Homo sapiens: one gene and its partners. The protein of the gene in region 1 interacts with the protein of each later gene in a pairwise test. Each region holds a gene or a part of one and is shown in the gene's direction. Other genes may lie near its edges.

Evidence for each region.
Region 2: the proteins of PTK7 (region 1) and DUSP15 interact in a two-hybrid assay, tested with the Homo sapiens proteins (one study listed by BioGRID and IntAct).
Region 3: the proteins of PTK7 (region 1) and PTPRR interact in a two-hybrid assay, tested with the Homo sapiens proteins (one study listed by BioGRID and IntAct).

Annotation. Positions count from the first base shown.
Region 1 is NC_000006.12:43,135,253-43,142,343, forward strand, and holds part of PTK7 (inactive tyrosine-protein kinase 7 isoform a precursor), read left to right. Parts: intron 1-3,596; coding exon 3,597-3,730; intron 3,731-3,883; coding exon 3,884-4,019; intron 4,020-4,153; coding exon 4,154-4,273; intron 4,274-6,415; coding exon 6,416-6,565; intron 6,566-6,678; coding exon 6,679-6,829; intron 6,830-6,919; coding exon 6,920-7,047; intron 7,048-7,091. UniProt on the Homo sapiens protein: Inactive tyrosine kinase involved in Wnt signaling pathway. Component of both the non-canonical (also known as the Wnt/planar cell polarity signaling) and the canonical Wnt signaling pathway.
Region 2 is NC_000020.11:31,867,528-31,875,405, reverse strand, and holds the start of DUSP15 (dual specificity protein phosphatase 15), read left to right. Parts: upstream 1-4,878; 5' UTR 4,879-5,068; coding exon 5,069-5,089; intron 5,090-5,174; exon of another isoform or gene 5,175-5,596; intron 5,597-5,616; exon of another isoform or gene 5,617-5,700; intron 5,701-5,808; coding exon 5,809-5,842; intron 5,843-6,005; exon of another isoform or gene 6,006-6,253; intron 6,254-7,878. Other genes in the region: probable tubulin polyglutamylase TTLL9, read right to left, coding at 4,211-4,279. UniProt on the Homo sapiens protein: May dephosphorylate MAPK13, ATF2, ERBB3, PDGFRB and SNX6.
Region 3 is NC_000012.12:70,910,739-70,917,738, reverse strand, and holds part of PTPRR (receptor-type tyrosine-protein phosphatase R isoform 1 precursor), read left to right. Parts: intron 1-7,000. UniProt on the Homo sapiens protein: Sequesters mitogen-activated protein kinases (MAPKs) such as MAPK1, MAPK3 and MAPK14 in the cytoplasm in an inactive form.

The DNA of each region.
Region 1 (7,091 bases):
GGTGTTAGAGGGTAGAGCCCAGAAGACGGAGAGCTCTGGGAATGCATTCAGTCAACAGAGATTTGTCGAGCACCTTGTGCTAGCTCTTCCCAGTACTGGATGCAACTGTGAACAAAGCAGGCAGAAGCCCCTCTCCTTGTGGAGTTCATATTCTAACAGCGGGGACAAAGCCAGTAAGAAAAACTATCAAATGAACAAATATAATTTTAGGTGCCAGTAGAACAAGGGAGAACAATGAAATAGGGCAAGTGATAGAGAAAGGGCAGGGCCAGTGAGAGTTTAGGGAAGACTTCTGTAAAAGGTGCATTGGAGTTGGTATTTAAATTAAGAAGGGAGCCAGCCATGTGATAGGCCCTGAGATGGAAATGGGCTTGTATGTTGGAGGAACAGTAGTCGCCTGTGTGGCTTGAGTTGAATAAACGATGGTGAGAGGGGTTGAAGTTGCCTGAGAGGTGGAAACTAAATCCCATAGGCCTTGTAAAAGCATAGTAAGGACTTTGGCTTCGGCATCAGTTATCCATTGCTACATAGCAAACCACTTCAAAACGTGGTGGCACTTTGGGAGGCCGAGGCAGGTGGATCACTTGAGGTCAGGAGTTTGAGACCAGCCTGGCCAACATGGTGAAACCCCATCTCTACTAAAAATACAAAAATGGCTGGGTGCAGTGGCTCACGCCTTGTAATCCCAGCACTTTGGGAGGCCGAGGCAGGTGGATCACGAGGTCAGGAATTCGAGACCAGCCTGACCAACGTGCTGAAACCCCGTCTCTACTAAAAATACAAAAATTAGCCAGGTGTGGTGGCATGTGCCTGTAATCCCAGCTACTCAGGAGGCGGAGGTTGCAGTGAGCCGAGATTGCGCCACTGCACTCCAGCCTGGGCGACAGAGCGAGACTCTATCTCAAAATAAAATAAAAAATACAAAAAAAAAAATTATCCAGGCATGGTGGCACATGCCTGTAATCCCAGCTACTTGGGAGGCTGAGGCAGGAGAATCGCTTGAACCTGGGAGGTGGAGGTTGCAGTGAACAGAGATCGCGCCACTGCACTCCAGCCTGGGTGACAGAGCAAGACTCCAACTCAAAAAAAAAAAAAACCAAACCGTAGTGACTTGAAACAACAAACAACAGCCGTTGACATGCTTATGATTCTGTGGACAGGTTCAGGTGGGCCCGCTCGTCTACCTGGTGTGCTATCGGCTGGGTGTACACGTTTGCAGTCAGCTGATGGGTGAGCTGGCCTGGTCCCTGGCGGCCACACTCACCTGTCTGGCAGTTGACTGGGGCTATTGACCAGGGTGCCTTAGTTCTCCTCCACATGGCATCTCCAGTAGGCTAGCCAGGCTTCCTCACCTGGCAGCTGGGTTCCGAGAGGGCAAAAGTGGAAGCTGCAGTACTACCACTGTGTTCTGTTGGACAAGGGAAGTCACAGGCCACTCAGATTCCAGGGACTAGAAAAATACACCATGACCCAGTTCAGTGGCTCACGCTGCAATCCCAGTATTTTAGGAGGCCAAGGTGGGAGGACTGCTTGAGCCTAGGAGTTTGAGACCAGCCTGGACCACATGGCCAGACCCCGTCTCTACTAAAAATAAAAAAAAAATTAGCTGGGCCTGGTGGTACGCGCCTGTGGTCCTAGCCACTTTGGAGGCTGAGGTGAGAGGGTTGCTTGAGCCTGGGACGCTGAGGCTGCAGTAAGCCATAGTGGCGTGACTGCACTCCAGCCTAGGTAACAGGATGAGACCCTGTCTCACACACACAAAAAGAAATAAACTCTACCTCTTGATGGGAAAGTGTCAACATCACATTGAAAAGAGTTGAAAGGGATGGGAGGATTGTTTATAACTATCATTGCAAGCAGCCTACCACACCACATTGGATGGGAAGGTCTTGCAGGGTTTTGAGTGGAAGACTGATTTTTCAGAAGATCGCTCTGGCTGTTTTGAGACTAGAATGTTAGGGCCAAGAGTATAAACAAGGAGACCCATACTAAGTAGATGACTATAATAGTCTAGGGGAGATACTGAAGGAGCTTGAACAGAGGCAGTAGCGGTGGGGGTGAGAGGTGGTCAAATTCAGGATATATTTAGGAGCCCCAGTAGATAGGGTTTGGTAGAACGAGTGTGATGGGGGTGGGGTATAGAGAGAAGACAAGGCTAGCTTTTTGGCTTTCTTAACTGACTAGATAGTTCTATTGACTGAGATAGGGAAAATGAGTGAGCAGGTTTTGGGGGAAGTCAGGTGTTCTCTTTAGCACACGTAAAGTTTGAGATGCCTGTTGGATATCCAGTTGGAAATGCCAGTAGGCAATTGGATTTATAGGAATCAGGATGTAGTTTTGGGAACCAACCATTCATGTTGTATTGAAGGTTGTGGACTGGATGAGTGAGTGTTGCTAAAACAGAACAGATTTCTGAGGACTGCGCCTTGGCATTTTATGGTGTAATAAGAAGAACAAGGGTTTCAGAGTCATATAGACCAGAGTTTTAAATTCTGTCACTATTAGGTATTAGCAAATCACCATTACTTCTTCTTTTTTTATTATTGTTATTATTATTTTTTATCTTTTATTTGAGATGGAGTCTCACTCTTTCGCCCAGGCTGGAGTGCAGTGGCGTGATCTCGGCTCACTGCAACCTCCACCTCCCAGGTTCAAGCGATTCTTGTGCCTCAGCCTCCCCAGTAGCTGGGATTACAGGTGCCCGCCACCACACCCGGCCAATGTTTTTGTATTTTTAGTAGAGACGGGGTTTCACTATGTTGGCCAGACTGGTTTTGAACTCCTGACCTCAAATGATCTGCCCGCCTTTGCCTCTTAAAGTGCTGGGATTACAGGCGTGAGCCACTGTGCCTGGCCACCATTACTTCTTTGAACATCTGTTTTCTTAGCTGTAAAGTGCGTGTTGGAATACATACCTTGGGGGGTTTGTTTTTTTTGTTTTTTTAGAGATGGGGGTTTCACTCTGTTGCCTAGGCTAGAGTGCAGTGTCTTACAGCAGCCCTCCCGCCTCGGCCTCCCAAAGTGCTGGGATTACAGGTGTGAGCCACCACTCCCTGCCTACCATAGGGGCTTATAACTAAGATAATGTTAACTAAGTTAATTAATGTGACAGTTAACTAAGATAATGTTCAAAAGGTGCTGGTGGCCGGGCGTGGTGGCTCATGCCTGTAATCTTAGCACTTGGGGAGGCTTGAAGCCAGGAGTTTGAGACCAGCCTGGGCAACATAGCAAGACCCCATCACTACAGAAAATAAAAAAATTAGCCAAGTATTGTGGTGCATGCCTGTGGTCCCAGCTATTTGGGAGGCTGAGGTGGGAAAAATCACTTGAGCCTATGAGTTCGAGACTGTAGTGAGCCATAATTGTGTCACTCTACTCCAGCCTGGGTGACAGAGTGAGAACCTGTCTTAAAAGAAAAAAAATTTTAAAAAAGGTGCTGGCACCTGGGTCTTCCGTAAAGGGAAACTCCTGCCATCTGAGGAGCATGGGGCTTCTGAACTCAGGGCCTAGAATGGTAGTAGGATTTCTTGGAGATGGATCCTTTAGTTTTGGAGACCTGTGAAGCAGCCTTCACTGTTTCCTTCCTGTCTGTCTAGCTGTGCCCTCCTGGCTGAAGAAGCCCCAAGACAGCCAGCTGGAGGAGGGCAAACCCGGCTACTTGGATTGCCTGACCCAGGCCACACCAAAACCTACAGTTGTCTGGTACAGAAACCAGATGCTCATCTCAGAGGTGAGAAAGAAGAGTGTTGCTAGTGGATGGGCGGGGCCTTCCCTCCACTTGCCCTCTTCTGTGCTCACCTCCATAGCACTCTTACCCTGGAGGCAGCCTCCAGGGAGAGGTGGGTGTGGGTTCAGGCTCTGAGGCCTCTCACCTGTGCTGCAGGACTCACGGTTCGAGGTCTTCAAGAATGGGACCTTGCGCATCAACAGCGTGGAGGTGTATGATGGGACATGGTACCGTTGTATGAGCAGCACCCCAGCCGGCAGCATCGAGGCGCAAGCCCGTGTCCAAGTGCTGGGTGAGCCAGCATGTCTTGGGGGAGCACCCTTCCTGGCTAGGCAGGAGAGGAAAGGGGAGGGAGCAGCAGGCCTGGCCACGGCCTCTCCAGCGGCCCCAATTCCTCGTCTTTCTACCCACCCTCTGCTGAAACAGAAAAGCTCAAGTTCACACCACCACCCCAGCCACAGCAGTGCATGGAGTTTGACAAGGAGGCCACGGTGCCCTGTTCAGCCACAGGCCGAGAGAAGCCCACTATTAAGTGGGAACGGGCAGGTGGGTACAGTGCCGGCATAGGGTAGGGGCAGGCAGGCAGTTCACTGATCAGATACATACCTGAGGGCTGCTGGGTGCCCCGCACTGTGCCAGGAAATGTGGAGATTAGACAAGCAGTGCAGGGCTGATGTATAGTTTAGTTAGGAAGGAAAAAGCCAGACACAGAAGAGGTCAGATTATAGCCTTGGACAACATGGAAGACAACTCAAGGCAACAAGTGATTGGATTGGTTCAGACAGTGCTGTAAAGTCCTCTCTTCCCCTTTTCCAAAATAGTTTATCTTTTCCAACATAAAAATTACATGGAGGCCGTGCATAGTGGCTCACGCCTGTAATCCCAACACTTTGGGAAGCCGAGATGGGTGGGTCACTTGAGGCCAGGAGTTTGAGACCAGCCTGGCCAACATGGTGAAACCCCATCTCTACTAAAAATGCAAAAGTTAGCCAGGCGTGGTGGCACATGCTTGCAATCCCAGCTGCTTAGGAGGCTGAAGCAGGAGAATCGCTTGAACCCAGGAGGTGGAGGCTGCAGTGGGCCGAGATCATGCCATTGCACCAGAGTCTGGCTGACAGAGTGAGACTCTGACTCAAAAGAAAAAAGAAACAAAAGTTACATGGGCTCCTTTACAAAATACTGGAAGAGGCCGGGCGTGGTGGCTCACGCCTGTAATCCCAGCACTGTGGGAAGCTGAGGTGGGTGGATCACGAGGTCATGAGATAGAGACCATCCTGGCTAACATAGAGTAGTGAAACCTCGTCTCTACTGAAAATACAAAAAATTAGCCAGGGGTGGCGGCACGCATCTGTAGTGCCAGCTACTCGGGAGGCTGAGGTAGGAGAATTGTTTGAACCCAGGAGGCGGAGGTGGCAGTGAGCCGAGATTGTGCCACTGCACTTCAGCCTGGGTGGCAGAGCGAGACTCCATCTCAAAAAAAAAAAAAAAAATATTGGGAGAAAAAATGTACAGTCCTGCCGTTTATCATCTTTGGGTGTATGTCTTCTTTTTCTGTGCATATGTTTTTCTTTTTTTACCTAGCAGTTTTATTGTATATATAGTTTCAGTTATTAAATTTACATGATTGGCTGAGTGTGGTAGCTCATGCCTGTAATCCCAGCACTTTGGGAGGCCGAGGTGGGAGGATCGCTTGAGCCCAGGAGTTCAAGACCAACCTGGGCAATACAGGGAGACCCTGTCTGTACAAAAAATTTAAAAATTAGCCAGGCATGGTGGTGCATGCCTGTAGACATGCTTATTGTAGAATTAGACAATACAGATAACTATGTAGTTTTTAAAAATATTTTTTAAAATTATTTATTTTTATTTTTTTTGTAACGGTGTAATTTTATACCCTTTTTTACTTACCATTGTCAAGCATTTCCCCACATCTTTATACACTCTTCATGAATATTTGTTTTGATGATCCTAATAATATTTCAACAATTGGATTCACTGTAATTTACTTAACTGTTCCTTAAATGTTGGAGATTTGGGTTGTTAACCAGCCACCCACCCACCCCCTTTTTTTTCATTGCTGCAATAAACATCTTTAAGCCAAAGTTTTTTTCTGGATTTAGGTTTATTTCCTTTGGGAAAGATTCCCAGAATTGGGATAATTATGCACGAAAGGGGGTATGAACATTTTTATAGCCCTTGATGTGAGTTGCCAAATTATTTTTTAAAAGGTTGGACCAATTTTGACATTTCCACCTAGAGTGAGAGAGTACAGTTGTAGATTCTGAGGAGGAAGTAGGCTCCCTCTGCTCAGGTCTGGGGGAACTTTCTGGGAGAGGTGAGGCTTAAAATGGATCTACAGCCTGGGATGGTAAAGAGCGGGAATGGGCTCTAGGAGGGAGAAGTGATGGGCAGCGGAGTAGGAACAGGGCCGATCTGGGCCCAAACAGAGTCCGGTTTGGCAGACGTGGAATGTCACACAGGGCAGTAGGAGGAAGAGGTGAGACTGAAGAATTGGAAGAGGGGTAAATAACGGAGGGGCTTCTAACACTTGGCTCAGGAGTTTGGACTTTGCCTGTGGGTGGTCAGGAGCGATGGTGTGTTTTTGAGTAGAGGTGAGGGACTGAAGGCATTGCCAGCTGTCTGTGTAACCCTGATCCTTCCCATAATTTCCCTTTGTTACCCCTGCAGATGGGAGCAGCCTCCCAGAGTGGGTGACAGACAACGCTGGGACCCTGCATTTTGCCCGGGTGACTCGAGATGACGCTGGCAACTACACTTGCATTGCCTCCAACGGGCCGCAGGGCCAGATTCGTGCCCATGTCCAGCTCACTGTGGCAGGTGCGACCGTGGCAGGGCCCTGGGGCTGGGAGGGCCCTCTGGGGTAGCACCGTGTACCCTGCCAGCCCCTTGGCTTACCCCTCCCTGCGCCTCGCTGGTCTCTTTTCTTCCAGTTTTTATCACCTTCAAAGTGGAACCAGAGCGTACGACTGTGTACCAGGGCCACACAGCCCTACTGCAGTGCGAGGCCCAGGGGGACCCCAAGCCGCTGATTCAGTGGAAAGGCAAGGACCGCATCCTGGACCCCACCAAGCTGGGACCCAGGTAGGGCCACCTCTCTCCCACACCCGTCCCTCCTCTCCTGCAGCCCCCCTCCCTGCGAGCTGGCCAGCACTATGGCTTCTCCCCCGACAGGATGCACATCTTCCAGAATGGCTCCCTGGTGATCCATGACGTGGCCCCTGAGGACTCAGGCCGCTACACCTGCATTGCAGGCAACAGCTGCAACATCAAGCACACGGAGGCCCCCCTCTATGTCGTGGGTATGGGCTGGGGAGGGTTATGCTGCACAGGAAGTGGTGGGCCC
Region 2 (7,878 bases), on another chromosome or scaffold:
TAGCCCTAATGAAGGGAGTAGAGACAAGGGTTCCTACTCTGTCAACTGTTCCATGATAATAGTAATGCCAATGGTAATAATAATAATAATGTACTGTGTTCCAGTCTTTCTACTAGGTATTTGAAACATGTCCTCTCATTTATTCTTACTACAGACCTACAGAGGGTTTTTTTTCCTCCCTATTTCATAGATGATGAAACTGAGGCCCAGAGAAATTTAAAAACTTGCTCAAAGTCAGTGGCAGAAACCACATCCCACAAGGCCTCCTTGTGTGCCATGCTAAGCAGGTTGGACATTTTCCTAAAGGTGTTGGTGAGTGTATGAATTTCCTGTTGCTGCTTGTAATCACAACAAACAAAGTGACTTAAAACAACACAAATGTAGTATCTTAGAGTTCTTGAGGTCAGAGATGTGAAATGGGTCTCACTGGGCTAAAATGAAGGTGACGGCAGGGTTGAGTTTCTTTCGTAAACTCTAGGATAATCTGTTTCCTTGCCTTTTCCACTTGCATCCCTTGGCTGTGGGCCCCCTTCGATCTGCAAACCCAGCAATTACACCACTCCGACTTCTGCTTCCGTCATCTCATCCCCTCTGATTCCTACTCTCCTGCCTCCCTCTTTCACTAATAATGACACTTGTGATTATGTTGGGCCCCTCTGAATAATCCATCATAATCTCCCCATCTCAAGATCAGCTGGCTGGGCGCGGTGGCTCACGCCTGTAATCCCAGCATTTTGGGGGGCCAAGGTGGGTGGATCACTTGAGGTCAGGAGTTCAGGACCAGCCTGGCCAACACGGTGAAACCCCTTCTCTACTAAAAATACAAAAATTAGCCAGGCATGGGTGGGCACCTGTAGTCCCAGCTGCTCTTGAGGCTGAGGCAGGAGAATAGCTTGAACCTGGGAAGCAGAGGTTGCACTGAGCCGAGATTGCACCATTGCACTCCAGCCTGGGCGACAGAGTGAGACTTTGTCTCAAAAAAAAAAAAAAAAAAAAGATCAGCTAATTAGCAACTTTAATTCCATCTGCAGCCTTAATTCTACCCTTTGCCATGTAATATAACATTCACAGTTACAAGGAAATAGAGTGTAAACACCTTTGGGGGGACCATTATTTTGTCTACCACAGTAATCCACTAAAGGGCTTTAAGCAAGGGAATGACAGGGTGAGACCCACATTTTAGCATCTTCCTATTATTGGTTTTGTAAAATGGTCATTTCATGATTTAAGACAGATTGGGCTTTGTAATAACTAATACTTCCAAAGGCTGAACAGTACATAGATATTAAATATGTTAGGTCTAATAACACATATGGGCTTTTAACTTGAAAGAATTCTTTCCTACATGTAATTTGTATCTTTCCCCTTAGCACTCAGTGGGAACACAAAGGACTGTTACAATTGCCCCTCTATGGGTAAATTAAGGGACATTGGCTCACCCGCCTAGGATCGCAGAGCTGCTAAGGCCAGGGCCATGGTAAGGAGCTAGTCTTCAGGCTCGTTTATCAGTGTTTTCTTTCTCTTTCTTTCTTTCTTTCTTTCTTTCTTTCTTTCTTTCTTTCTTTCTTTCTTTCTTTCTTTCTTCCTTCCTTCCTTCCTTCCTTCCTTCCTTTCTTTCTTTTTCTTTCTTTCTTTCTCTTTCTTTCTTTCTTTCTTCCTTCCTTCCTTTTTCTTTCTTTCTTTCTTTCTTTCTTTCTTTCTTTCTTTCTTTCTTTCTTTCTCTCTCTCTCTTTCTTTCTTTCTTTTGTCTTTTTTTTTGACAGGGTCTCACTCTGTCATCCAAGCTGAAGTACAGTGATGTGATCACAGGTCACTGCAGCCTCAACCTCAAGCAATCCTCCCACCTTGGCCTCCAAGTAGCTGGGACTACAGGTTCGTGCCACCACACCCGGCTAATTTTTTGTTTTAGTTTGTTTGTTTGTAGAGACGAAATTTCGCCATGTTGCCCAGGCTGGTCTCCAACTCCTGGGCTCAAGCGATGTTCCCGCTTCAGCCTCCCAAAGTGCTGGGATTACAGGCATGAGCCACCACGCCCAGCATCAGCATTTCTTTACAGCATCCATGGGTCGGGCATTTGGGGAAACTTAAGTCAGCACATCTTTGGCACAATTTCCTACATATAGCTCAGTGCCCAATAAACGTGTTGAATTGGTGAACACCCCTGCTTTCATTTCTGTGACACAGATAGTGACTTTCAAGGCAGGAAGCCTGGGGGCCATCCTAAAATTCCTTCCTTCCCCCCACATCCAGTCAATCTGCAAGTCCTTTCAGCTGCCCTGTGAAAATATTCATATATGCTGAGTCCATCCCCTTCTTTCCAGCTTCTCGGGTCCCACTCTATCCCAGGTCACTGTCACCTCTTACCTGAGCTGCTGCAGTGGCCCCCATAAAGGAAAGGGTCAGTGAGGGGTCGAAGTATTTGACTTAAATAAATCAGATGACCTGGCCTCCCAGGTTAAATTTTCCTGTTGGATTTTTATCCGACAGAAGAGAAGGAAAACTTTAACTCCCAATCATGGCCATATGTGCTCCTGCATGCTCCGGCCCTGAACCGTCCTCTTAACACCTCCTGTAGCTCCCTCTACTCCAGTCCCACTGGCTTTTTACAGAGGCCAAGCTATTCCCATCATAGGGCTTTTGCCCATGCTGTTCCTTCTGCTGGAAATACTCTCTCCACTCTTTTTCTTTTTCGTGTGTGTTATTTTTTATTTTTTTGAGACAAGGTCTCGCTCTGTCACCCAGGCTTGAGTGCAGTGGTGCGCTCATGGCTCACTGCAGCCTCCACCGCCTGGGCTCAAGTGATCCTCCTCCGCCTGGGCTCAAGTGGTCCTCCCACTTCAGCTTCCTGAGTAGCTTGGACTACAGGTCCCGGCTAATTTTTTTTTTTTTTTTGTAAAAGCAGGGTCTCCCTATGTTTCCCAGGCTGGTCTCAAACTCCTGGGCTCACACAGTCCTCCTGCCTTGGCCTCCCAAAGTTCTGGGATTACAGACCTGAGCCATCATACCCAGCCAAATTTATTTTAGAGATGGGGTTTTAGTATATTGCTTAAGCTGGTCTCAAACTCCTGGGCTCAATTGATCCTCCCACCTCAGCATCCCCATGTGTTGGGATTACAGGCATGAGCCACTGCGCCTGGCTTTCCACTCTTTAAACAGCTGGGTCCTTCTTATATATCACCTCTCAGCTCAAATGCCACTTATTCAGAGAGGTTCTCCCTGTCTGCTTTGTTTCCTTCATAGAAAACTGGGACCATTTGTAAATAATTTATTTGTTTGCCTATCTTGTTTGCCTTCCCTCCTAGATCTGAGATGTCTAATATGTAGCTACTAGCTGCATATGGCTAGTAAGCATTTGGAATGTGACTTGTCTGAATTGAGATGTGCTGTAAATGTAAAAGACACCAGATTTTGAATAGTTAATACAATTTAAAAAGGATATAAAATATCTCATTTATAGTTTTAAAATACTGACTATATGTTGAAATGATATTTTGGATATATTGAGTTAAATAAAAATATTATCAACAATTAACTTGTTTCTACTTTTTAAATGTGGCTGCACATGTGGCTGGCATTATATTTCATTTGGACAATGCTGGTCTATACCATTAGCTAATGAAGGTAGGAACAATCTCTACCCACTGCTGTGTCCCTAGTCTCTATCATATACTAGATGCTCAGTAAGTATTTACTGAATAATTTGGTATTTATGAGAACTCTGGGCTTTTATGAGAGCTGAGACGGGCAGCCCCATGTATGCTATGAACTTGAGGGAGGAAGAAACAGTTTTATTTTTCTCCAATCACTGTATTTCAAAGGGCTCTGTGGATTCTCTCTGTCCTGCTCTCTATCCACAATCCCCAGTCACCTACTACTATAGATTGAGGGGTGGGGGTGATGGCTGAAGGAACAAAGCTGGTGCAGCTGCTTCTATTTCAGTCCTATAGGAAGTGTCTTGATTATTTTACATTCTCCAGCTTTGGTCCTAGAAGCCAGGAAGGGCTCACCTCAACATCCTCAGAAACACAGATAGGGTTAGCTGGGGGTCACGGGGACTTTCCCAGGGTCATCTAGCAGGTCAGAGGTGAACAGGGCCTCAAACCTTGGTCTCCAGACCCCTTCCAGGACCCTGACCTCTAGCTATTAATACATCCTGATGTAGTCTCCTTCAGACTGGAACCCTCCCTCAAACCCCTCTCCCAACATTCACCTGTAATTTCTTGGGGCACCTAATGGCAGTTGTGCCTGGTCCCAGCAGAGCTTCCCTGGATGGCACCATCCCTCCTAGGGGCCGAAATGGATGGAAGGAAGGAGTGAGAGGATGGATGAATGGATGGGAAGATGGACGAGTGAATGAGTGAACAGGAGGGTGGGAGAATGGATGGGAAAGGAGGAAGGCTGGTTGGTAGGGTGTCTCTGCACGGGTGGAGAGGATGTATCGGAAGGAATTACCCACTTATCCCGTTCCAAGCAGACTCTGAAGAGCAGAGAGCCCTCGGCGATCAAAGTCCAGCCCCGTCACGTTTCTGCTAGAAGCCGAGGCGGGAGAAGTTGGGTGCTTTCCCCCGGGGCCCGCAGGGACGTCCAGGCAGAGCCGGAAGGGGGACGGGAGTTTGTGGGCCGGCCGGGGGGCTCTAGGCGACATCCCCCCATCCGCCCGCGCCTGCCGGTGCCAGGGTGGGGTAAGGCCCCCGCCCCCACCTCCGGAGGTGGCGGCCCCACGCGGCCCCAACAAACTGCCGTTGTCCCGCGGGCCGTGGGCCCGGCACACTGGGGCTTTGTCCGGCCCCCCGCCGCGACCCGAGGCGGGGGCCCCACATGACCGAAGGGGTAGGAGGAGCCTGCGGCGGCGGCGGTGGCAGCGGCGGCTCCACCACCATTTCCCTCCCGGGCCGGGGGTCGGCGGGCGGTGGCGGTGGCTGGGCAGGGCTGGGCAGGGCCGCGGACGCCAGGCCCCCCGTTCCCCGCCAGGCTGCAGGCGTCGGGCCTGGGCCGTCAGGGCAGCTGTGACCGGATCGCTTCCCGGGCGGCGAGCTGGGGGTGCACCCGGACCGCCGCCCCCGGGATCATGGGCAATGGCATGACCAAGGTAGGGGGCGGGCCCCGCGCAGCCTCCCCGGTCCCCGCCCCGGCCGCCGCGGCCCGGCGCTGACCAGCTCGGTCCGCCCGCCTCTGACCTTCTGTTCTCGCCGGTCTCCGTGCGGCGGCATCTCCGTGTCCCTGTGACTCGAGACCGCGGCTGTCGGGTCTCCCCCTCTCTGACCCTGCGTCTCTGTCCCCGCTGTGTCCGCCCTCTCTCCGTGACTCTGTGTGTCTCTCGCTGTCTTGCTGTGGCTGTCACTCCCAGGCTGTCTCCCAGTGAGTCCTGCTCTCCGTCTGCATGTGTCCCTCTCCCTTGTCGCTGACTCCTCGGCTCTCTCCGGGGCTGTTTCTCCATCCTGTCCCGCCTCTGCCTGTCATTGCCTTTCTGCCTCCCCAGCCCCAGAATTTCCATCCCTGCACCCTGCAAGTCTACCTCTCTCCTCTCCTCTCCTCCTAAGACCTGCCTTCCTCCTCTCCCCTCTCATACCCAAGCTGGCCTCCCTTGGTTCCCTCGGTTGGTTAACTGGCCCCCTAGCCTACCCTCCCCAGAGCCCCAGACCCCTCTCACAGAGGACTCAGGGCCCACAAAAGGGAAGAGAGTGCTCCCTGAGCCCTGAGGTCCATACCCTTCATGGGACAGAGAGGGGCTGTGGGCCCCCCAGCTGCCCTGGGGGTGGAAGGGGGTGCAGCCCCTGCCCCACTGACCCTTGCCTGTCCTTCCTCTAGGTACTTCCTGGACTCTACCTCGGAAACTTCATTGGTGAGCACTGCCCACTCTGTCCCGAGGCCATGGCACTCTGCCTGTCTCAGGCCTGTGTCCACCATTCATGCCCTGGCCCATGCATCTCAGGAATGGGGTTGGGGGCAGGGAAGCGGCCCCAGGCTGGGAGGGGGAAAAGGCTGATGGAGGACAAGGGGTGCACATGCAGGCGAGTGTCCCCAGGCTTGAAGGGACATGGAGGGAGCATGGGGGCCTGACACTGACATCCCTCCCCGCCATTCAGCCTTCCCCAGTGTTCTACCACCAGACCAAAGGGCCAGAGCAAAGGGCTCGGGGCCTGGGCTGTGGACCTGAGCAAGTCTACACCTGCGCTAAGCCTCAGCCTCCTCCTCAGCACAAAAGGTCCACCAGCTGCTGAGCACTCTTCTGGCCCTGAGGTTCTGGGTTGAGGTCTGTTTGCGGGTGCTGCTTCTAGCGGGGAAGCTGGGAACTCTTCCCCCCATAACTTCCTCCTTGTCAGAGGAGAGGTCCCTGGAGATGGGCTGGGCCTTCTTGTGAGCAGGGTCATGAGCACCAACACTGTCGCACCCCAGAGCCCTGGAGCAGCTGGGCAGCCTAGAGCTGGAAGTTGGGGGGGCGGTGAGCCGGCAAGCTTTGCATTCCCCACTCTCTCATCCATTCCTTCCACAATCTTCAGTCAGGAGGAGGGGACACCCATGTATAGATACCTTGTTCTTCAGGGGCTTCCAGGCTGGTGGCAGGCAGGCAGAGCTGAACATAGACCTTGGGTAGAAAACATGCTGGGTAGAAACCATGCTAAGGGGGCTGGGCGCAGTGGCTCACGCCTTTAATCCCAGCACTTTGGGAGGCGGAGGCGGGCAGACCACCTGAGGTCAGGAGTTCGAGACCAGCCTGGCCAACATAGTGAAACCCCGTCTCTACTAAAAATACAAAAATCAGCCAGGCACGATGGCAGGCGCCTGTAATCCCAGCTACTTGGGAGGCTGAGGCAGGAGAATCACTTGAACCCGGGAGGCGGGGGTTGCAGTCAGCCGAGATCGTGCCACTGCACTCCAGTCTGGGCAACAGAGCGAGACTCTGTCTCAAAAAAAAAAAAAAAAAAAAAGAGAAAGAAAAAAGAAAAGAAAACATGCTAAGGGGCAGACTGATCCAGGGCTTGGGTGACTCAAAGTGGGAAAATCATTTCCATCTGCAGAGTCAGAAAAAGCTTTAGAGAGGGAGGGGCTCAGGTGCTTCACCCTTGTAAATCCTGGTCCCTTCCTTCCTGGGAGCTCCCTCAGCCGCTCATGCCACCTTGATTTCTGTGAGTATTTGGCCAAGTAAGGTCTGAACCCTCTGTAAGTGTGCAGGCCCCATAAGGGCAGGAGCCACGAAGCTGGCCCCAGACCTCCAGTGCCCAGCCAAAGTATACACATGGTTAGCACTCGGTAAATGCTCATCGAATGAGGAAGTGGAGATAGAGGGGACATGTGTTATTCATTCTGAATATAAAAGATCTGCATATGCTGGGTATGCAGCCCCTAGAGAGGGCCACTGTTGGGTACATCCTTGTTCATATATCTTTGTAGATAAGGACATAGTATTTAAAACAAAAGTGGAAGCTTATTCTGTATCCTTAAAAATACATTGTGGGCATCAGCCGGGCACGATGGCTCACGCCTGTAATCCCAGCACTTTGGGAGGCCAAGGCGGGCGGATCACGAGGTCAGGAGATCGAGACCATCCTGGCTAACACGGTGAAACCCCGTCTCTACTAAAAATGCAAAAAAATTAGCCGGGTGTGGTGGCGGGAGCCTGTAGTCCCAGCTACTCCGGAGGCTGAGGCAGGAGAATGGCGTGAACCCGGGAGGCAGAGCTTGTGGTCAGCCGAGATCGCGCCACTGGACTCCAGCCTGGGAGAGAGAGCAAGACTCCGTCTCAAAAAAAAAAAAAAAAAAAAAAAAAAAAAAACATTGTGGGCATCATTGCACATCAGCATATAGAACTCTTTTTAATGGCGGCACACTGTGCCAAAGTATGCCTACACCATTAATCATCCAGTCCCTTTTTAATGA
Region 3 (7,000 bases), on another chromosome or scaffold:
GAGTGCCATCTCCCATTATTTTGCTTATGGTTGCCTAAGACACCATCGGGGGGAAAAAGAAGATTATGACTCGCATTCTGGCTAGGGAGAAGTACTGTGGTCTATAATAGCTGTGGGAGAAAAATGAGGAGTGGGTACCATGCTGTGTAAGTGGCATCTCTGGGTAAATTAACACTAAAGGATTACTAAGCATGGTTCTTGTTAGAGAAGCTGGACACTACTCTACCCATGGCAGCCGATTTTTATAGATCACCTAACAAGGAAGTTGTGGTTATTGTCCATCCAACTGCTTATTTTACAGGTGAGAAAATGAAGATCTAGAGTATTAAAGTGGTAGTTAATAGCATAGTCGGGATAAAAGCCCAGGTTTCCAGACCCGTGGTTGCATACTATATAAAATTATACACTGGTTCTACAATAGGTGAGGCCACCATTGATTAAGTTAGTGGTGCAAAATACTTTTTACCTAACTGTCCTTATTCTTTACTCTTTCGTGAACCAGTTTAATATATAAACTCCAGTTGAAAATACCACTTCAGGAATATTCAAGGAGGCAATTAAAAGCCACCACAATAATACGAATGGTAAAAAAATATTATGTGGAAGATCCACAGAGCTTATTTTCTTCAGCATTTCTCCTCTTCCTTTGTCCAAAGAAGCATATTCCATTTGAGGAGATATTATTTATAGTGTTGTATTTTAGTTGCAAAAGAGTACATTTTTGAGATATATTAAAAATTCTCATGTGAAAGCTTTCTTTTTCCTAGGGAATGTTTTGCTAACAAAATACAGAAACTGATTTCAATCCATTGCTTTCTCTTTGAGTTCTGGAAAAGGTTCTTTCAAATTTCTGTGTTGTTCTTGCTATCAGCCTTTTTGAATGGCACAAAGACTGCCTTCAATGTATCTCCTGAAACTATCTCTTCACTCTCAGAGAAGTGCATAGTCAATTTCCTTAGACTCTAAGAAGAAAGGTATTCTATGATAGTACCAAGAAGATCTGGGAGGTGATTTGCAGAAGTACCACCCTCAAAAGAAAGGATAGACTAACAGGTAAATGATATATTTTAAGATTTTAAGATGTTCCTTAGAACTCCAGAATTTGTTTTTCCTATTGAAAATCTCTCAGAGAAGTGCATAGTCAATTTCTCTAGTCTCTGAGAAGAAAGGTATTCTATGATGGTGCCAAGAAGATCTGGGAGATGATTTGCAGAAGTACCACCCTCAAAAGAAACGATAGACTAACAGGTAAATGATATATTTTAAGATTTTAAGATGTTCCTTAGAACTCCAGAATTTGTTTTTCCTATTGAAAATCACTCAATATAGACCTTACAATGGTCTAGAGTCTCTCTCCACATTATTTCTATGATATTATCTCTCACTACTTTCTTCTTTTTTTACCTCTCTCCAGCCATATTTATCCTTCTGTTTCTAGAAGATGCCAGGCACTCACCCTTTCATACTGTTTTGCTTTTTTCTTTCTCCAGGTGTCTCCACAGCTTAATCCCACAATAATTTTAGAACTTTAATTAAATATTACCTTGTTAATGAGGTTATTCTATTTCATATTTCATTTTCCCTTCCCCCCATCACCCAGATAAAAATTCTAGCACCCTTTCCCTGCCTAACTTTTCTTTCCCCAGAGGTCTTCACCACCCAACATACAATATATTTTACTTTTTTTATTGTAGTTTCCCCTCTCTGTATTAAAATGTAAGCCCATTTAGGGCACATATTTTTGCCTGTTTTGTTTATTATTGCATGTATTAGAGGTCTTGGGCTACCTAGTACCTGGGGGCAGTTCCTGACATAAAATCTTTCTAAAGATTAAATAAATAAGTTAAATAAATAATGTAATACAGTGATATTTCTGGTCTCTTCTTTTTGCATTTAATATCTTCTTAACACCCACAAAAAACACACATAGTCCACTTAGCCACTTCTGGAATGGACTTAAACAGCTCATTTGTCCAAAACTCATGTTGCCTCACATGCCCCCAAAACACACTATCTCTAACAGATTTTGCTGTCATTGTGAACTGAAGGGCAATAAAGGATGGGTTTGTGTTAGACCAGAACTACTAATCAACTCAGTGAAAAAAGTCTTTCAAACTGATTGCCAGATATTGTGCAGCCCAAATTCTTTGCTGATTGGCTACATTTTCACTTCTCAGTGAAATGCCTTGTACATGTAGGAATGGCTACAGGGATCAGCTGATTTACAAACAGAGAGTCTAATACACTAGAAAAAACTGATTTGCTTCTTTGGTACTTAAGAGACACAGGAATATGTATATTGGAGATGACATATTTCTAGCACCTCCAATAGAATAGCACCTCACATATTCCATTGAAAATCACATCCTACCTAACACCTTGTAAAAATTCTGGGATGCATTATGCACATTCAGCCTTTTCTTCTTTATTTCTCACCTACTTCTCTATCAGCTTCCGTCCTCATCCTATCATCCTATGGTTGAACATAATTAAAGAGGTTATTGTAATGTATGTTCTTGTTATCAATGCATTTCTATAGTACTTATATATTTTGACCCCTTTCTGAATTTTAAAATTTTTCCTCACTTGACTTCCACAGACAGTCATTACTTCCTAGCTTCCCTCTTATTTCTCCAGCCATTTCTCAATTTGTACTTTTAGGTCTTCTGCTGTGTATTATTTAATGGTTAGTGCTCTCTACAGCTTGTCATTGATTTTTTGTTATTTTTCTCTGTATACAATCTCCCTGGATAATTATACTCAGACTTGCACGTCAAAGATTCCAAAATCCACATTTCCATCTCAGTTATCTCCCCTGAACTCTGGTTCTATATTTAAAATTACCTAGAAGTCATTGTATATTCCATAGTAATCTTTTTGTTTTTGTTGTTGTTGTTGTTGCTGTTGTTGTTGTTAGAGACAGGGCCTCACTCTGTTGCCCAAGCTTGAGTGCAGTGGTGCAATCATGGCTCCCTGCAGCCTCGACCTCCTGGGCTCAAGCAGTCCTCCTGCCTCAACCTCAGAGAGTGCTGGGATTACAGGTGTGAGCCACAGTACCTGGCCCCACAATAATCTTATATACAACTATTTTTACTCAACACTTCTCAACACAATTACTCTGATAAATATTCCCTAACATTGTGAATAACACCAGGATTCTTCACAATGACCCAGGTCTGAAACAAATAATTGATCCTAGATCATCCCTTTGCTACTTTCATCTTAAAGGTTTCAAACTCTTCTCATAAGATGTTCTCCACTCTCCATGATCATGTCACTGCCTTGAGACAGATCCTTATTTCTCACATAATATCTTGTGATGACCTCCTATCAAATTTATTCTTTATAATAATGTCGGAGGTGAAACTCTTAAAAGCATACCTGATCATATTCTTTCTCCAAAAAATTCTTTAATACAGCTATCTCCTTTTCTTTTAGAATAAACTCCAAACTCATTAGGAAGGCAGTCTTTTGCGATGAGGTCTTCTCATCTTGCCCTCCTTTGCACACTAATATCACACTAAGACAAAATTTCCTTTGGTTTGCCATGTCTTGAATCATTTCACATACTGTTCTATTTCTCTTAAATACCAATACTCTGCTCCTTTTTTTAGATGACTCTTTCTCCAACTTCAAATGTTGATCAGGCATAGCCCACTTTGAGAATCTTCTTTTTTTTGGATGACTCACCTCATTCAAGTAGCTCTCCTACATTTCCCTTTTCAATCCTGTATATTCCCCTGTCAATGTACTTAACCTGTATACTGAAGTTTTTTGAGAACAATAACACAATTGCAGCTTTATTTCTATATACTTATTCCCTAGAACTATGCTTGTTACCTAATATGGCATCAGTAAGTGTTCAATGAATGAATACATATATTAAATATATTTGTTAAAATGAATTGTGATAAATTAATTTACATTGACCAAGAGATTATATCTCATCTTCATGACCATAAAGAAGGTAATTGACTTTACTACTGCCACCTTAGTGCAATTTACACTTATTGACAACAAGGAAATGGAGATGGGACAGAAAATTTTCTATGTAAATACACTCCATAAGATAAGTTTGTGTCCCATGGGCATGATGCTATTTGTAGTGTACTTGTGTGCTGAACTCTTTCTAGATGGATAGACATTCTTGCATGATTTTCCAGTACTACTTAAGAATAGAATGAGATTTTTTTTTTACTTTAAAGAGCTCAAAGAGTTAGATAAACAACATAGCATGATAGTTGTCCACTACAGAATGGACCCGGAACTCCTAACCCTGATTACTGATTGGTTATTATCTACCTATAGCAAATACAAGACATTTACACATTCAAAATCAGGTGGGAGTGTGAGACAGTGGCTTCAATAAATCAAGACCAAAAATTATTCAACCCTCCTTTTCTCTCTGAATTAAAAACCAAATCATCACACAAAATGTCTGAATATTTGAGTGGTTGTATACATTTTTTCTCTCATTTTGTGTGTATACAGTCTTTATAGAACCATAAAGTTTTTGGATCCCACATATTTTTTCTCATAGAAGACATTCTTACACCTGAAGAATGGAGACTATTTTGTGAATTATTTAAAAATCGCTTTATGTGAGATGATCAGATCACAAATCAAAAGCCCATTCATTGCCATTAGTATTAGAGATAACACGGATGTTATATTTTATGGCAAGTTTATTGTTAAATCTTAAAAGTTGTTCTGTGAGTCAAATTCAAAAGCTAGTGAAAGCCATTTTTTCCTTTAAAAGGGGATTTGAAAGATTCTACTTGGCCCATGAGTGCATTTTTCATCTTCAAGGCATTTACAAATGCTGACACACTTAGAGTAGCATTGATGTTTCCCAACATAAAGGATGTTAGTAGTTTCGAAAAATAAAGATGTAATGCTAAAATATTATTTTAAGATCAAATTTCCTAATGCTTATGTACCATATAATGTAACTATAAGTGCCTACTATAGTAATGATATTTGCCACAAAAGGACAATTAGCAAATTTATATTATAAACATTAGCACTTTCCACTTAAATCATTTTTATTCATAATGACTGCATAAACTTTCCTCATAATCAAATCTCATTTGATTTTAATATATTAAGATGTTGATGTCCATTAAAATTGCAGCCACATGGACCAACAACAAAGCAAAACTATTATTTATATTATGCAGCAGTCTAGAACTTAGCAAATGCCAAGTTCATTGGGGACATGAATTATTTTTTCCTATTTCTATTTTATTTTTTATTTCCTTTTTTTCAGATCTAAAGCAATGTCCATTTTCTGACTTAAATGAGAAGACTGGCCTCAGGCAGTCCTAAACTACTGATTCTTTGGAAAGGAGCATTTAATGAGCACAGAGTAAAAGCATCTCACAGTGATTCACTGGACTGTACAGCAATATGTACAGAGCAAGACTCTACAGCTATTTCACTGTACTAATGATCCAATTCCTGAGGCATACTGGAGAGAAAAGGAAGCAATAAATGCACAGAATCAGTTCACCACTGGGTGACTTTCACTTATCTGGGAAAAATGATCAAACATAATATCATAGTGAGTTAGTTAGGTTGAAAGACCATCAATCCATTAATGTAAATGTATGGCTTTCAATCATAAGCAATTTAGTTTCTTTGTCTTCTTGATTCAAGGTGGTATTTTTAAAATTCTCCCTGAAGAAAATAAAGTAGCTTAAACAGAAGAAAGGAGAAAATTTAAACAAGGGGAAATGTCATGTTTCTAGATAACTTTTTAGCAGAATTCCATAGTAGTTGAGAGTTAAGTGGGATAATATATCCAAACTTGCAGTCTTAGAGAGTGTCATAGAAGTGTTAGGCATTACGTGATTAGACTAAGGAGATGATAAATGGTTAATTGTACCTTGGAGGAATTTCTTATTCTTTTTATGTTTATGCCAATACTGGGTAAGCATACACACCTAGATACATTCTGGATTCTGAGTGGTTTTTTTTTTTTTTTTTCAGTTGAGCCTTTTCTTGATAGTTTTCATCTGTATGCTATAGGCAGGAGCCTGACCATATGTGCAGGTTTGTAGTGGACTATGAAGCTCGAAAATATCTACCTCCCTGCAGATATCTCTCCCAATGCCTTTTCTAAAAGTTTCATCTAAACATGAATTCTAGCATCATGTCTTCAGCAAGTTCTACTTAAATGAATGTGAAATAAAAATTTCTCTTGGATATGCCTGATTGTGACTGAAAATGTGTAACATTTACATAAACATCATAAATCTGAAGTGCCTAGTTCCTACTGCACTGCCTTGCTTAGCAGGCAGTCTAGACTTGTCCTAGGATACATCTTCCTAATTAATCCCTCTAGGGACCCACAAAGGGTGAAAAGCTCAAGCATGGACGAGGGATGCTGCTCATAGGTCTATAGGCTTCCCATCTGTTGTCTACTCCTCTGGCCATCCTTCTTCTCTACTGACCAACTGATACTATCCTATTTACCATTTGTAGCCCATGGAATTTCTAGACCATTGGGCTGTAGGTCCATGTGGAAGGCTGCCTGTGGTTCTGCAGACACCAGCCAAGACAGGGGTGTTTGAATGTAAAGGGATAGAAGGAGGGGCATGGGTATGGGAAGAACATAATGGAAAAGGTCACATGCAGCCACAACCTATTCATTGAACTACTCACCACTCCCCTAAAACCCAGGCTACTCAGCTGACCCTGCTTTTCCAGGACTCTTCTCGCTGCTGATTTTACCTCAGGTGACCTATTATTTATAGCTTCAGTTTGACTCCCTTGGAGACCCATAGTTCACAAGAAAACTCAGAATTCAGTTATAGAAACTTTTTCATGATGCTTCACTTCTCTATGCAAATCCAGAGACACATCTGGCAGCTCTTTCAGTGCCTCTGAAAATTTCATGACATTTAAGAAGCTCACTAGGGCAATTCACATGAGTCCTCACAAGCCTGGTCCCCTTGGGCATTTGGGCATGTCTCTTGGCATTGCTGGGAACCTCTGT